Regions from separate parts of the Homo sapiens genome. Here region 2 is linked to region 1. The links come from fine-mapping of genetic effects on gene expression. A gene starts in region 1. The other region holds a variant in brackets. All regions are shown on one strand. Distances are from middle to middle. Region 1 holds the start of TFAP4 (transcription factor AP-4). Region 2 has its middle 17 kb from the start of GLIS2.

What was found. PIP is the estimated chance that this variant, and not a neighbour inherited with it, causes the effect. A credible set is the group of variants that fine-mapping cannot tell apart.
Region 2: its variant is the best candidate, but not a certain one, in a credible set for the expression of TFAP4 in blood mononuclear cells (TOPMed, PIP 0.89).

The regions. Positions count from the first base shown.
Region 1 is chr16:4,269,895-4,275,259 of GRCh38, reverse strand. TFAP4 (transcription factor AP-4) reads left to right here and starts at 2,237. Exons shown (of 7, transcript NM_003223.3): 1 at 2,237-2,602. The coding sequence starts at 2,514. RefSeq lists silencers at 1,293-1,942, 2,663-2,712, 3,073-3,232 and enhancers at 1,091-2,066, 2,363-2,412, 3,313-3,502, 3,044-4,020.
Region 2 is chr16:4,296,806-4,302,170 of GRCh38, reverse strand. No RefSeq gene overlaps it. Among named protein-coding and RNA genes, the nearest start is that of GLIS2, 17 kb to the left of the region's middle. RefSeq lists a silencer at 2,769-3,063 and an enhancer at 4,563-5,365. The variant C/G (reference allele first, on the strand shown) is at 2,421.

The DNA.
Region 1 (5,365 bases):
ACAGTAATGCACCAGAATAGCTTGCTCACTGCTGGGTGAGGTGGCTGATGCCTGTAATCCTGGCACTTTGGGGGACCGGGGTGGGCAGATCGCCTGAGGTCAGGAGTTTGAGACCAGCCTGGCCAACAGGGCAAAATCCCATCTGTACTAAAAATACAAAAATTAGCCGGGCTTGGTGGTGTGTGCCTGTAACCACAGCTACTTGGGAGGCTGAGGCAGAAGAATCACTTGAACCCAGGAGGCGGAGGTTGCAGTGAGCCGAGATCGTGCCACTGCACTCTAGCCTGGGTGACAAAGCAAGACTCCGTCTTAAAAAACAAAACAAAACAAAACAAAAAAAAGAATAGCTTGCTCACTAAGGGCAGTTAAAAATAGGCTTCCCACCAGGGCCATCCATGGCTCATGCTTGTAATCCCAGCAATTTGGGAGGTAGAGGTAGGATTCCTTGAGTCCCAGGAGTTCAAGACCAGGCTGGGCAACACAGTGAGACTCCTATCTCTATTTGTTGAAAAACAGTAAAAAGGTTTTTTTTTTTTTTTTTTTTTGAGACGGAGTTTCACTCTTGTTGCCCAGGCTGGAGTGCAATGACATGATCTTGGCTCACTGCAACCTCCACCTCCCGGGTTCAAGCGATTCTCCTGCTTCAGCCTCCCGAGTAGCTGAGATTACAGGCATGTGCCACCAGGCCCCCGGCTAATTTTGCATTTTTAGTAGAGACGGGGTTTCTCCATGTTGGTCAGGCTGGTCTCGAACTCCCGACCTCAGGTGATCCACCCGCCTCAGCCTCCCAAAGTGCTGAGATTACAGGCGTGAGCCAACGCGCCCAGCCGAAAGTTTTTTTTTTTTTTTTTTTTTTTTAAGTAGAAACATAGTAAGCCTTCCAGAGACTTTTTTTTGGTCAAGTGGTCTGGGATCTCTCCTTAGAGAAACTGCCTAACAGGTTGCTTCAAGGATTGGAGAGCGTGTAAGCAAAACTGCTCGGCATCCACCGGGTGCTGGCAACATCTAATAACAATATTTCCCAATAATAACAGTAACTATTGTTACTAGTAGGAATAAGTCAAATTAGGAGGCGCGATTTAGGCGGAACCTGGAAGGCGGTGGGCAGGATCCAGGACATTCCAAGGCAGGCGTGGGCTTCCTGAGCCAGGAGCCAACCCTCCAGGAGCCAGGGGAGGGCCTGGGGCCGGAAGGTGCGGCGTGCGAGCGGAGGACGGAAGCTCGCCGCCAGGGTCCCCGTCCCTGCCCCAAGTCGTCACCCCCTCTTGGGGAGCGCATCCTGGCGGAGGGGCAAGTCCCACACGGGCTTTGTTATGAATGGGAAGCTGCAGCCTTCAGCCCGCGGAGGGAACAGTGCGGGTCTGGGGGAATAGCAGGGGACCCGGCAGCAACCAGCAGACCTCCCCGCAGCGCTGGCAGCCTGCGCCCGGGGGCCGCTGCCGTTCAGGCCCGCCTCCACCCTCCCCTCCCTGCCGGGGCCCCCGGCTTCCTAGGGCGGCCCCAGCATCCGAGGCGCCCTTTGCCGTCCCGTCGCCGGGTCCAAGATTCCCAGGATCCGGAGTCCCGGCCGTGCGGCCAGCTAAGCAAGGCGGGAGGGAGGAAGCTGGCCGGCCTCCGAAGTCAGCCCCGAGTTACATGTGGGAAGCGGTGGCTGTGACGCAAGTTTCCAGGGGGCCCTGGGCTCGGCTCGAAGGGAGCACACCGGAGAGGCTCCGCTCCGTGCAGCTGCAATGGTGAAAAAGCAGAAGCCCCAAGCGCGAACCCCAGGCCGCCTTCCTTGCTGCCGCTGCACGCCCGACCCAGCCGCGCCCCCTCCTCCCTGCGGGCCGGCCGAGCGCGCGGACCCTGCTCTGGGCCAGTCGCTGCTGGACTCCGGGCTGCACGGGCTGGGCTCCCTGCGCGGTGGCTGGCCTTTTTTTTTTTTTTTTTGCAACGCTTGCCAACCTGTCAGCTGATGGACCTCATCACCCATAGTGGCGCATGTAGCTCGGCCGCAGCTCGCTCCATTCACGCCGCGCCCCGCAAGCCCGCCCGCGGCCCCCGGCCCCCTGCGCCCCGCGAGAGGCCTGCAGACCCCGGTTGCAGCCGGTCCCCGGGGGCCCGCGCCCCTCTCGCCCCGGCCTCGCGCCGCCCGGGGGGCGCTGCAAATAGTCCTTTGTTTACATGCAATTCCTTACTCCGCGGAAGGAGGCCGGGGGAGTGCTGAGTTTTCACCAGCTGTTTCCCGCCTTGAAACAGACATCTGATCAGCTGCAAACACACACACACACACACACACACACACACACACACACACACACACACATACACACGCCCGGGGAGGCAGGCCGGAGAGACCTCCCTCCCGCCCCTCCCGCCCGCCTCCCTCCCCTCGCCGCCGCCGCCGCCGCCAGCATCTGGGACCGGCCGATTCTGCACCTCCGTCCGGCGCTGCCCTTTGATTCGGATTTCCATCTTGCATTCTCCGGCTGATCGCGGGACCTGGCTCGTGCAGAGGAGGGGGGCCGATCGCTATGGAGTATTTCATGGTGCCCACTCAGAAGGTGCCCTCTTTGCAACATTTCAGGAAAACAGAGAAAGAAGTGATAGGAGGGCTCTGTAGGTGTGTACTCCTCCTCCCCCCACCCCCTTCCTACCACTGCAGCCCCCGGCCAGCCCGCCCGGGCGGGCGCGCGTGTGCGCACGCATGGCCCGCGCCGCCGACCCCGCTAGCCTTTCTTAGCTGCCGGGACGGCTGCAGCCCCACACGCCGGGTCCGCGCCGCCCCGGGACCCTCCTTCCTTGGAGCATGGGGGCCCCAAGCGGCCCCGGCCACTTTTGTCCGCTGCAGGCGGGCGAGTCGCGACGTTTGTAAATTGCAAACAGACCCACGTGGTTCTGCAGCAGTCCCGGCCATGCTTGGTGCTGGTGGCCTTCCCCCCCGCGCTTCCTCTTTCCCCCTCCTGCGGCGGCTTCCTTCCTCTCCTTCCTTCCTCGGGATCTGAGGTCGTCCCCATCCAAGGGGGTCTGGGGGCCCGGGGCGCGCGTGGGGGTGTAGCTAGGGCGGCTACAATGCAGCCATGCCGCGGCTCCCGGCGCGGGGTGGGGGCGGGGAGCCGGGCACTGTGCGTGTTTGCAGAGCGGGGCTGCAGCGGGGTCGGGGGCGTGCTCGCGTGTGGGTGTTGGGGGTGGGCGGACCCCGAGGGGCCCGCGCGGCCGGTAGGGGCGCCGCGGCCCGGGGCACGTTGGCTGCCGCTCGCTCGCCCGCCCGCGCCCGGGCGCTGTTTACTAGCGAGGCCTGGACGTGACTCTGCAGCCCTCTTGGAGTAGGCGGACCTCTGCGCGCGGCCTCGCGGGAGCTGTAGTTCTCCGTGTCCTGCTGGTGCAGCATTGTGGGATTTGTAGGCGCTCCTGGGCCACGCTTTCCCTGCACAAAGCTCGGCCCCCGCGGGCACGATGGGCAAGGCAGGCCAGGTGGGCAGGCCATTTGGGGAAGGGACACCTGAGGCCGCCCCTAGCCTCGCAGGGCAGCTTCCCGCCGCACGTGGGTTTCCTCTGCAAACTTTCCCATCCAACGCCCCTCCCCCCTGCCGTAAACCGAAAGCGTCGGGTCCCCCAGCCGGGTGGGTGGCCCGAGGTCCGCAGGCCTCCCCAGAAGCCACTTTGCAAGCTTTGGTCCTAGGTTGCTCTAAACCCAAAGGGTGATGGACTCAAGGACCACACACAGCCAAACCACCCCGCACACTTCTTAAAATGCACATGCCTGGAACTCTGATCGCTGGGGCCCGGACATCTGCATTTTGAACGACCCCCTGGGCGTGGTGTGGGGGAGGTGGGCGTTCTACGGCGTGCGCAAGTTTGGGACCTGTGGCCCCTTTCCTGCCGCGCTGCTCCAGGAGCGAAATGGCTCCCCAGGGCTGGAGCCACGTGCTCTGCCGCCCGAGGCAGTCTGGGCGGGGATTGAGGGAGGAGGAGCCCGCCGGTGTGGCACAGGCTGGTGGACGCTAGCGCCTGCAGAATCCGGCCTGGAGGGAAGGTTGCTGCACACGTGTAGACACTCCTGCCCAACCCTCTGCCCCGGGGGTCCCCACCTTAAGGCTACTCTGAAGTTCCCAGTCAATACCTAGACTTGGGCCAGTTGATGGGTTTGGCAGCTGGCAGGGATGCCCCGAGGGCTGGCCCTTGCACGAGGCCCACCTGGAGGGCCCAGTAATAATAAGTAAAAAAAATTCTTGAGCTCTTTTTATGTTCTGGGGACTCACTTTGCTAGAATTTTCTCACTGAGTTGTCATAATCTTTCTATGAGTCAAAAGTGTCTTTTGATTCCGCTTAAAGAGGCGGACACAGAGACTGGAGAAGGGACCACTACAGCAGGTGGTGGAACTGGAACTTGAACCCTTGTCCTGGGGTTGCTGCTGCTGCAGGGCTGGGCTGGGCAGCGCGGAGGTGCAGTTGAGCCGCTGTGCCTACTGGAGAAGACATTCTGGGCCTGATCCTGGGCAGGGTTGGGGGGCCCTCTGGCTGCCATGCCTGGGCCTTGGGTGAGTCCTCTCAGGGCCCCCTGAGATTCTGGCTTCAATTTATCCCTGCCCCAAGCGTTCCTTTGGAGCATACCAGCAGTCCCCCAGGGTAGCTGGATCTTGGTAGGCCAAGGACTTGAAGGTGTAGGGCCTTCGTCCAGGGTTGGACATGGCAACGTCCATTGCAAGACAGTTGTCAGCTGTGCATTAGGCATGGAGTTGGGGGTCCCTGGATTTGTTTACCTTCAGTAGGGGTTGCAGGGTGAGGTGGGAAGCCAGTCTGGGATCAAATGTGTTCATTAGGCAGGACCTTCTGGCCAGATGCATTTGCTTCTCAGGGTCATCTCAGGCTGGTGGGCTTTGCTCCATCCCTCAGTGACCAGCAGGGATCTCCCTGTCTTTCTGTCTCCCAGGCCTGCCAGAGGGGATTGTAGGGCACGGTGCTGCACACACAAGCTGCAGGTTTTGGACCTGTCGCCTAATGGTTCTCAGTCTCTGGGAAACAGAGCACCTGTGAGAAAATTAGCTATGGGTATGGCAAGTGCCTGGTAGCTGTAAAAATGACACTCAGTCTTTTTTTTTTTGAGACGGAGTCTCACTCTGTCACCCAGAATGGAGTGCAATCTTGGCTCACTGCAACCTCCGCCTCCTAGATTCAACCGACTTTCCTGCCTCAGCCTCCCAAGTAGCTGGGATTACAGGCATGTGTCAGCATGCCTGGCTAATTTTTTTATTTTTAGTAGAGATGGGGTTTCACCATAGTGGTTGGCCAGGCTGGTCTCGAACCCCTGACCTCAGGTGATCTGCCCACCTTGGCCTCCCAAAGTACTAGGATTACAGGCATGAGCAACTGCGCCCAGCCACTG
Region 2 (5,365 bases), 27 kb before region 1:
AAAATTTGCATGGGAATGTTCAGAGCAGTGTTATTCATAAGAGCCAAAAAGTGAAAGCAACCATGTGTCCCTCACCTGATGAATGGATAAATCAACTGTGGTCTCTCCAAACAGTGGAATATGATTCAGCCATAAAAAGGAACGAAGCAGCTGGGCGCAGTGGCTCACGCCTGTAGTCCCAGCACTTTGGGAGGCCGAGGCCAGTGGATCACGAGGTCAGAAGATCGAGACCATCCTGGCTAACACGGTGAAACCCTGTCTCTAAAAAAATTAGCCAGGCATGTTGGCACATGCCTGCAGACCCAGCTACTTGGGAGGCTAAGGCAGGAGAATTGCTTGAACCTGGGATGCGGAGGTTGCAATGAGCCGAGATCGTTCCACTGCACTCCAGCCTGGGAGATAGAGTGAGACTCCGTCTCAAAACAAAACAAAACAAAACAAAAAAACGAAGCACCAATACATACTACAACATGGATGACCCTTGAAAGCATTATGCCCAGTGACAAGCCAGACACACAGGACGCATGTTGTGTGTTTCTGTTCATATGAAATTTCCAGAATAGGCAAATCCATAGAGACTGGAAGTAGATTAAGGGCCAGGGGCAGTGGCTTACGTCTACAGGCATGAGCAGTTTGGAAAGCTGGGGCAGGAGGATCACTTGAGACCAGGAGTTCAAGACCAGCAGTTCAAGACCAGCCTGGGCAACAGAGTGAGACCCCTATCTCTAAAAAAAAATAAAGTTAGCTGAGTGTGGTGGCGCCCACCTGTAGTCCCAGCTCCACGGGAGACTGAGAGGAGAGGACTGCTTGACCCTGAGAGGTAGAGGCTACAGTGAGCTATGATCAAACCACTGAACTCCAGCCTGGGCAACACAGTGAGACTCTGTCTCTAAAAATAAATAAATAAAAAGATAGGGTAGCTTAGGGGTTGCCTGGGGCCTGGGGTGGTGGTGAGCATCGGGGAGTGACTGCTAAGTGGAGTTTCTTTTTGGGTTAATGAAAATATTCCAAAATTGGTCAGTTGCAGTGGCTCATGCCTGTAATCCAAGCACTTTTAGGAGGCCAAGGCACGTGGATCACTTGAGGTTAGGGGTTCGAGACCAGCCTGGCCAACGTGATGAAACTCCGTCTCTACTAAAAATACAAAAAAATCTAGCTGGGCCCGGTGGTGCTCACCTATAGTCCCAGCTACTTGGGAGGCTGAGGCGGGAGAATCGCTTGAACCCGGGAGACAGAGGTTGCAGTGAGCCGAGATCATGCCACTGCACTCCAGCCTGGGTGACAGAGTGAGACTCCGTCTTGAAAAAAAAAGAAAAAGAAAATATTCCAAAATTGCAGTTATAGATGCACAGATCTGTGGATATTTAAAAACAACTGAATCATCTACTGTGGTGTAATTGTAAAGTGGTGAATTATATGGATTATATCTCAATAAAGGTCTTTTTTTTTCTTTTTTTTTTTTTTTTTTTGAGACGGTATCTTGCTCTGTCGCCCAGGCTGGAGTGCAGTGGCACAATCTCGGCTCACTACAAGCTCCACCTCCCAGGTTGGTGGACATTCTCCTGCCTCAGCCTCAGCCTCCCGAGTCGCTGGGACTACAGGTGCCTGCCACAATGTCTGGCTAATTTTTTGTATTTTTAGTAGAGACGGGGTTTCACCGTGTTAGCCAGGATGGTCTCGATCTCCTGACCTCGTGATGCGCCCACCTCGGCCTCCCAAAGTGCTGGGATTACAGGTGTGAGCCACTGCACCCGGCCTCACCAAAGGTCTTATTAAAAAAATTAGCCAGATTCCCTGCTTCAGTGATAAAAAAAAAAAAAAAAAAGAGGGGCAGGAGAAGAGGACCCAATAACTTCCTGAGTGACTGGGGAAAATATTTTTGGGTTATATTTCTGTAATTCTCGTGAAGTGATTACAGAAGTGACGGGATAGAAGAGGTTTCTTTAAAAAAAATTTTTTTTTTAATTTAGTAGAGATGGGATCTTGCTATATTGCCCAGGCTGGTCTTGAACTCCTGGACTCAAGCAGTCCTCCTGCCTGGGCCTCCCGGAGCTCCCGGGTTACAGGTGTGCAATCCCATGACCAGCCGATAGAGGACGTTTCTATTCATCCTTCAGACCTCAGCTTACAAGTTACCCCAAGATAAGCCTCCCCCACCCCATAACCCTCCCTCTGTCACTTTGTCACGTGTCTGAGCCCTTGTTTCTTCCTTTTTTTTTTTTGAAATGAAGTCTTGTTCTGTCGCCAGGCTGGAGTGCAATGGCGTGATCTCGGCTCACTGCAATCTCTGCCTCTTGGGTTCAAGCGATTCTCCTGCCTCAGCCTCCCGAGTTGCTGGGATTACAGGCACATACCACCACACCCAGCTAATTTTTGTATTTTTAATAGAGACGGGGTTTCACCATGTTGGCCAGGGTGGT[C/G]TCCATCTCCTGACCTCATGATCTGCCAGCCTTAGCCTCCCAAAGTGCTGGGATTACAGGCGTGAGCCACCGCGCCAGGCCTGTTTCTTCCTTTTATAGCTCTTCCCACACTTGGAATTCTTTTCTGCCTCTGGACCTGATTTTGTTGGGCTCTTGCCCAGCTGAGTTCCGTGAGGTTCGGGGCTTGTCTGTATCTTGTCTGCCACATCATAGGTGCTCAGTGCACACCTGTTGAGTGGATGCACCATAGATATATTGATAACAGCTGTGAGCGGTTGGGAGCGAGTGAGCAGAGCAGGGCTGCTCAGGGTGTCTCCAGCCCTAGTGGCTTTCTCTCTGTTCCAGTTCCAGGAGAAAGTCTCTGGAAAGGAAGCCCGAAGTCGGGTCTGGCTGGGAAGAGGTGGGGGCTGGGGCGGGTGCCGGGTGCTGGGGCTGGGAGGAAGTCTGCAGCCAGGCTGCTGAGGGTGTGGCGTCTGTGTGTGCACCTTTGGAATGTGGCTGATTCACTCTGAGGGGAGCCATATGCTGCCGCCACCGCCTCGGATCTGACATCTGGAGGCTGAATTCCAGGAGGAGAGAGACAGATTCCTGCAAGCAGATGCCAACTTTGAAGGTCAAAGGGAGCAATGGAACTGCTTTGAGGGGGGTGAGAGGGTCCAACACTCCCTCCAGGGGCTGGGAGGGAGGTGAGGCCCCCTCCCCAGACTTGCCTGAGCCCCTGATCTATCAGAGCCTCTATGCGGACAGCTGGGGCGCAAGGAAGAGAGCATGAGCTTCAGCGTTCAGACCTGGATTCAAAGACCAGTTTCTGGGCCAGGCACAACGGCTCATGCCTGTAATCCCAGCACTTTTGGAAGCTGAGGTGGGAGGATCACTTGAACCTAGAAGTTTGAGACCAGCCTGGGCAACATAGTGAGACCCCATCTCTACAAAAAAATAGAAAAATTAGCCAGGTGTGGTGGTGCGGGCCTGTAGTCCCAGCTACTCCTGAGGCAGGATTGCTTGAGCCCAGGAGGTGGAGGCTATAGTGAGCCAAGATTGCACCACTGCACTCCAGCCTGGGTGACAGAGCAAGACCCCCCCATCTCAAAAACAAATTAAAAAATAAATAAATAAGTAAATAAATGAAATAAAGACCAGTTCCTTGACAGCTCGTGTAACTGCAGAGGCCGAGGGTCTAGCTGGGTCCAGTGCTCACAGGAACACTGGCTTGCATCTCCCAGCCAGGTTTCCTCCGTTTTCGCTTTGCTCTTGGGCCAGCGCTTCCTGAGAGGAGGCCCTGATGTCACAGACCTGTGAACCTCCAGCTTGTGTCTACCACGGGTTCCAGCAGAATCCTAGGTTTGCCTCTCTTTGGCTGGAGCTGGGTCCCAACCCAGCCCTGTAGCGATCACCGTACTCCTGATGGGACAGGCCTGGGTCAGGAGCCTGCCCAGCACAGGGCAATACCCCTGTAGCCCCATGGAGCAAATGGAAATGAGGGGGGCTGTCCCTTAAAAGAACCACACCGGCCAGGCGTGGTGGCTCACGCCTGGAATCCCAGCACTTTGGGAGGCTGAGGTGGAAGGATCGATTGATCCTGGGAGTTGGAGACCAGCGTGGGCAACATAGCAAGACCCTGTCTCTACAAAAAAAAATTTTTTTTGAGATGGGAGTCTTGCTGTGTCGCCCAGGCTGGAGCACAGTGGCGTGATCTCGGCTCACTGCAAGCTCTGCCTCCCAGGTTCATGCCATTCTCCTGCCTCAGCCTCCCAAGTAGCTGGGACTACAGGTGCCTGCCACACGCCCGGCTAATTTTTTTGTATTTTCAAAAATTTTTTTTTAAATTAGATGAGCATAGTGGTGTGTACCTGTGGTCCCAGCTACTTGGGAAACTGAGACGGGAAGATGGCTTGAGCCCAGGAGGTTAAGGCTGCGGTGAGCCTTGATCGCACCACTGCATTCCAGCCTGGTCAACAGAGCAAGGCCCTATCTCAAAAACAAAACAAAAAAACATAAATACAAGAGCGACCCCCCAGCTCTGCTAAGCTGCCTCCACCATGCTGGCTGCCAGGCCCTGTGCTCAGCTTCATGGGCTTTAGCGTCCCCAGGTGTCCCTTTGGTTGAGTCTCTCCCTTAAGCTCTCAGATGCTCATTTTCTTCATCTCTGAAATCTCCAAGCTTCTTTTCAGGATTGGATGAGACAATCCTGGCAAATCCCTTGGCACAGGCCTTGCCCCAAGGAGGCAGATGATAGCTCACGTCTAGTTCCTTTCTCATCCTGACATCTAGGTTCTCTGTGATCTGCCTGTGGGCTCGAAGGATGGTGTGCATGTGTGTGTTTGCATGTGTGTGCGTGGGTGTGCATGAGTGTGTCTGCACGCAGCAGCAGCAGCCCCCTTTCTGTTCTCCTAGGAGTTTTGTATTTGATTTCTCCTCCAGAGTCTTGGGGGCTCCACAGGAGAGATGGTGGAGGCGGGAGGAGCAAGAAAGGGGTGAGGTTAGAAGCCTGGTCCCAGCTGGGGCTGCAGCTGGGGGCCTGCAGGCTCTGGCCTGCCCTGGGAGGCCCTCCCTGTACCTGCAGCTGCATCTGGGGCCGGAGGAGGGGCCAGGCGTCCTTCCGCTCCAGGAGCTGCTGCCTGTCCCCCTCCCATGACACATGAGGACTGTGTCTGGTCGATTCACATTGGAGGGTCCCTGAATGAGCTTTGTCCATTAGAGGACCTGTATTCTTGTTCCTGGAACCTGGGAGTGGGTCAGAAGGGTGACTCACACCTGTAATCCCAGCACTTTGGGAGGCCAAGGTGGGTGGATTACCTGAGGTCAGGAGTTTGAGACCAGCCTGGCCAACATGACGAAACCCCATCTCTACTAAAAATATAAAAATTAGCTTGGCATGGTGGTGCGTGCCTGTAATCCCAACCACTCGGGAGGCTGAGACAGGAGAACTGCTTAAACCTGGGAGG